Linked DNA regions of Homo sapiens: region 1 is linked to region 2. A link means that fine-mapping ties the variant in region 2 to the expression of a gene that starts in the linked region. Tissue or cell type: hippocampus. Region 2 holds a variant in brackets; the other region holds the start of a gene. All regions are shown on one strand. Distances are from middle to middle.

Region 1 (2,913 bases), 29 kb after region 2:
CTTGGTACCAACTTACAGATAACCAGATTTACAAAGAGCAGCCTGTAGAAGTTCAGATGCGCAGAGGCTCAGAAAGCTGAGCACATGGGAATAGTAATCAGGTGGGTAGGTGGGGCATGGGGAAACAGGTGAGCTTCATCTTAGGGAAGTCATTGAAGCCTGGAAGTGTTAGGGAGGAGGCCTGGAATCATTAGAAAAGGTATTGGTTTGTTTAGGGTTTGAGGCTCTGGATCCTTTTCCTGAAGCCCACAGTTTGCCCAACTGTGCATGAGAGGAAGGACAGGGGTTGGGGAAGAGAACCCCTAATGCTATGCACACCTTCCTTCTTCCAGATCAGTGAGATAGGGCTGGAGGACAGTCTGTTTTTTGCTATAGTGTAGTTACCATGAGCCATTCTGGACAGGTCTTTAGAAAAGGGAATTCTCCTACCCAGTCAAATGGATGTCTAATAATTTCCTGGGGGTAAGCGTGACAAAGTTTTAAGTAGAGACATTTGGGGATGAGAAAGCCTCCTTAAGGAAGTAGTGGAACCTCCAACACCCTGAGGAGAAGGGAAAGAGCTTCGGGAAGGGGAGCTGATTCTCTGAGGCAGCGTTCCCAGGACTGGTGGGAAGGAGTGGTGACCCGCTCGGGCTCGGCGTGGACCCGGAGCGCGCCTGGCGCTGTCCGTGGTGCTGAGAGGTGGGGAGGCCAGCGTGGCGGCGGCGCTGGGCGGAATGTGGGCGAGACATCTCCGCAAGGCTTGGCGGTCCTTCCCCACGGCCCTCATCCTCTCATTGCCACCAGGCCTCCTCCCACAGCTGTTCCTGAATCCGCTGCATTGGCCTCTAAAACCAAAAATCAGGGAGAGGGGGCGACAGACTAGGAGTTTGCGCTCTCTTCCCCATGCGCTCTGCGCAGGAGTTCTCGAGTGTGCGCAGTCTGGCACGTGAGTCAGCGCGGGGTCTACGCGGATTGGTGCGGGGGAAGGGGAGAAGGATGGTCCCATTCCCCCTCCATCCTGCTTTCCCTCAGCGGTCCCCTTATTGGAAACCGGATCACAGCACGAGGAAGCCCTGGCTCGTCTCCTGGCCCAGCCTTCTCCCTGGAGCCAAGACCCCGATACCCGCAGCCCTGGTCAACTCTTTTTCTGGCCTTTCTTGCTTCTCCTGTGGCCACATAGGCCAGTTTTACCTCTCTCTGTTCATTTGTCTTTCTGACCTCTTCCCAAATCCCCAATTTTCACCTGAACCCACTTCTCGTGAGTCCAGACCCCATATGCCCAGCCTATCTGAAGCCTATGCCTCTTTCCGCTAGACGCTGTCTACCTTTTTCTCTTCTCACGTCCTTAAGCACATTCTTTTACTTCCAAGTTTCCTAGCCTTGAGGCCCCCTGCAGACCCCCACTTCTCAGGATCGCTTTCTTGGCCCTGCCCGCACCCCCCAGGGTTCCTCCTGACCGTGGGCACTAGTGTCGCTGCAGCCCCCCGGGCAGCTGTTCAGCAGCAGGAAGCAGACAAGCAGCTGGAGCCCCTCGGAGCTCCCAGGCCACAGTGGGTGCTGTATCCTCCCAGGCTCGGCGCGCTCACTCCCCGGCCAAGTCTCAGTGAAGGTAGCGGCCACGGCCGAGGGGCTGAGCGGGGCTGCAGCTTCCCACCAGCCCGCGACTCCGAATCTGTTTAACCCTCCTCGGCAGTTCAGCCAATCGTGAGCGGGCCCTGCCCCTGCGGTCGCCTCCCCAGCTCCTTCCCCTACCGCCTCCCCACCCTCATCTCTTGGAATTCCTGACCCGGCTCCTTTCGGGCATTAGCTGGGTCCCAAGAACCACCGCCTGTACTCCCAGTCCTAAGGCTGCAGAAACGGATGGCACGTAAGATACGGGTGCAAGTTGTACCTACTCAGGTTTGTTGTGAGAATCAAATATGAACAGCGATGAAACAGTAGGCACTCAAGGAATTTAGTTTATTTTATTATCCTTGACACTCTTTACTCTGGCCCACTTAAAACCCTTTAGAAATCATATAGGTTCGATCTGCTATATATATATATATAATATTATATATTATATATTATATATGGCACATCCATCCACTTTACTCCACATCCACTGCCATCGCCTTGGTCCAAACCACTGCACACTGTACTTTTTTTTTTTTTTTTTTTTGAGACAGTCTTGCAATTTCAGATCACCACAACCTCCGCTCGACCTCTACTCAACCTCAGGCTCCAGAGTAGCTGGGACTACAGGTGCACACTACCATGCCCAGCCAATTTTATTTATTTATTTATTTATTTTTGTAGAGACAGGGTTTTGCCATGTTTCCCAGGCTGATCTCAAACTCCTAGGCTCAAGCAATCCTCCCACCTTGGCCCCCCAAAGTGTTGGCATTACTGGCATGAGCCACCATGCCAGGCCTTGGACACTGTACTCTTTTAAATTGAGTTGTTGTAGTAACTAACTAGCTAACTGACCTCTTGCTTTCACTCTTGTGTACTTACAAGCTAGTTTGTGAGCTTTCTAACTCTTAGACTGGCATTTAAATTTTTTTTCATTAAGCTTAAAACATTTATTAAACTGGGCATGGTGGCTCATGCTTGTAATCTCAGCACTTTGGGAGGTCGAGATAGTGGATTACTTAAACCTAAGGGTTTGTATAGTGAACATTTGGGGTTGATACATTACAAAGGATCTGAATTATATTATTATCTTTAAAGGGTAATAGTTTGAGTTTGTTCTGGCAGGCAATTAAATTTTTGGTAAAAAGTCTTGATCCTGTGGCAGTCTGGTTAGGGAAGGAGTACTTCATCCTATTCTCAATTCTAGCCTGTATCTCTTAGTCCTGGGATATGGTGCTTATGGCTAAGGTGTGGTCCTTTTTGGATTTCAACATAACCCAAAGTCATTTACCAAAACTCTCTATTTTACGGGTCCTG
Region 2 (2,913 bases):
GTCCGGGCTGAGGGACTGCGGTTGGGGTGGGACCAGAGTCAAGGACTTACCTGGTGGAACAGGTAGGGCTGCAGCAAGGCAGGTTCGTAACTCAGTGAAGGGTGGGGAGGCTGTGGGGGCAGCAGCAGGTGCTCCAAGAGAGGCGGGAGCAGCTCAGCCTGCAGAGGGGACAGAGAGGAGCTGGCCCCAGCTCCACCTTTGCCCACTGGTGGTTGTGGAAGCCGATGCTGGGCAGCAGGGGCGGAGCCAGTGGGGATGTCCTGTAAAAGCAGCTCTCCAGCAGGACCAGGTCTCTTGGGTGCCAAGCCAGACCTGTAGAGGAAAGCAAAGTGTGTGTGTTGGAGCGGGGGAAAGGGCATAGAGAGCCTGCAAGGCAGAACTATTCGGGGCCAGGCAGGCTCAGCGGTTAAGAGCAGGCCTGACCTCTTTAGAAACTGAGTGACCTCAGGGGAAGAGAGATGGGCTGGGTGGGAATGGGGAGGGACCAGAGGGCCAAGCTGAGGGCAGAGGTATCTGCCTCCCTGGTGAGCATGGCTGAGTCTCTGAAACAACTGCAAAGGCTGGGTAATCATGAGGCTGGGGATGGAGAAGGGGCAAACAGGAGCAGGGGAAGGCAACCAGGAATTTCTCTAGATGAACTGTGGCTGCAGCTGTCCCCGTTGCCCCTGTGTGCCATGTCCCCACACCTGGCTCTCCAAGTATATGTCCAAATATTCAGGACTGCTCCTCCACCCCCCACCACTATGCCATCTTCATCCTGGTATCATCATCTGAGCTCCCTAAACCTCATTTACTTTCCTCTGCTTTGCAGTCTGAATGATGCCTTTAGAGGCCCTAACCACAAAAAGATGATGGTGGCTCCTGTCATATAGAAATTCACATAGTAATGAAATGGAATATTGAACAACTTCAGTCCAACAGCATTCTAATTTCTCCCATGATGACTACATTGATGCTTCTTTTAAAGTAGCCAATGTCAATGTTTTTCAAAACATTCAAAAAATGCCCGTTTTTCTGGATCCCTAGAGATGAGCTCAGCTCCTCTTGGTCATGTGAGCATGTCAGAGAGTGACCATTCCTGCACCTCTTTACCTGTGCCCCAGCATGCTGGCCTTGGTGCCCACTTCCTTCCCCTTCTCTCCATCAATTAGGACAACCACAGATTCATCAGCCTCACCATTGCTAGAGTTGTAGAGAAAGGCTGCCTACCTGTCCCTTGGACGGGGCTCTGGGGGGCGAAGCCTGGGGATGCGCTCCATCTCCTGAGAGATCACATACTGGGTGAGGTCATCGTGCCAGGACAATCCTGTCAGGAAAGAGGACAGCGTAAGTTGGTTCAGGAGTCTGGGGATCCAGTAACGGGGACCA[C/T]TGGGGATCAGAACTGTACCCTCTGCCCTGCAGCTCATGGGGTTTGTCAGAGTAGAGGGACAAACTCAGTGGGTGATCTGAGCTGTCTTCTTCCCACCCTCAGGTACAGCTATTGGAGCCAGACCACCTGGGTTTGAATCCTGCCTTTGCTACTGATGAATTATGTAACCTTGGGCAAGTTGCTGAACCTCTCCAAGCCTCAATTCCCTCATCAATAAAATGGGGATTTATACCTCCTAGGATTGTTATTATCATTAAAATAACACATATACATATCAAACGGTTAGAATAGTGCCTGTCATGTAGTGAACTTTTAACAAATGCTATTACCATAATTATTATTACTATTGTTATTATTCTTTGTGTTGACCCTGAACCTCAACTTTCTCTGTTTGTAAAGTGGAAACGATACATATTTCAGGGGGCTGTTGTGAAGATCAAGTGTGATCAGGGAAATCAAAGTGCTTAGAAAACTCTAAAGCATAATCCACATGTTTTAAACATGTATCATCATCTTCATTGTCGTCATCATCATCATCATCACCATTATCATCATCATCTTATTCATAGACAGCTCTCCTGTTTGACTCTTTCCCCCAAAAAAACTCTGCTCTCAGGAAAGTTCAGTCACTTATTCTAAAGGAATAATTTCCCACTTTTCACCCTCATTTTTTCTTCTCTAGTTCTGGATTTAAAATCTGTGCTGCTCTTAACTTGTATTCTGGTATCTACCAACATCCACACCTGCCTCCTTGCTTATTCACATTAGATGAGCTGTCTGTGTTCCTATTTAAAGCCAGTTCCTCTGAGCACTAGATTTCATCCCCTCTCACCTATTCAGGAACATTCTCCTTGCAATTCTCTCTTCTTTCCTACATAATTTCCTTTGTTCTCTACTGAATTATTCACATTATTCCCATGCAAACAATATGCAATTTCTTCCATCTTAAGAAAAATACTGCTTGATCCCACTTTCTTCTCTAGGGATCACTCCATATCTTTGCAGCAAGACTTCTAGAAAAAGTTGTCTATACTGACTGTATCCAATTCCTTTCTTTCTATTCCCTCTTAATCCACTTTATTCAGGATTTTATTCCCAACTATTCTACCAAAGCTGCTCTCATCAAGAGCAGCTTTGTCTGCATGTCCAAATCTAGTGGTCAATTTTCATATCTTATTTTACTTATCCCGTAATCATCATTTGACACTGTTGGTCACTCCTCCTCCTTGATACACTTTCTCCTGGCTTCTGGGACACTGAACACTGTTGTTTTTAATCCTACTCCACTGGCTTCCCCTTCTCAGTCTCCCTGAGAGGAAGTTGATGGTTCCTCTCTTTATCCTGGTCCTCATTTTTTTTTTTTTTTGAGATGGAGTCTCGCTCTATCACCCAGGCTGGAGTGCAGTGGTGCGATCTCGGCTCACCACAACCTCTGCCTCTCAGGTTCAAGTGATTCTCCTGCCTCAGCCTCCTGAGTAGCTGGGATTACAGGTGCTCGCCACCATGCCTGGCTAATTTTTGTATTTTTTGTAGAGACAAGGTTT

Alleles and levels. Alleles are on the strand shown, and positions count from the first base shown. SD is a standard deviation of normalised expression in the study named.
For the expression in hippocampus of the gene that starts at base 1,660 in region 1, T is the low allele of the variant in region 2 and C is the other (moderate effect, 0.67 SD a copy in GTEx).

What was found. PIP is the estimated chance that this variant, and not a neighbour inherited with it, causes the effect. A credible set is the group of variants that fine-mapping cannot tell apart.
Region 1: it holds the start of RESP18, and the variant in region 2 is the best candidate, but not a certain one, in a credible set for the expression of RESP18 in hippocampus (GTEx, PIP 0.77).

The regions. Positions count from the first base shown.
Region 1 is chr2:219,331,085-219,333,997 of GRCh38, forward strand. It overlaps RESP18 (regulated endocrine specific protein 18), which reads right to left and starts at 1,660. Exons shown (of 6, transcript NM_001441699.1): 1 at 1,440-1,660. The coding sequence starts at 1,545.
Region 2 is chr2:219,302,526-219,305,438 of GRCh38, forward strand. PTPRN (protein tyrosine phosphatase receptor type N) reads right to left here. Exons shown (of 23, transcript NM_002846.4): 4 at 1,210-1,306; 5 at 51-312. Among named protein-coding and RNA genes, the nearest start is that of PTPRN, 5.4 kb to the right of the region's middle. The variant C/T (reference allele first, on the strand shown) is at 1,369.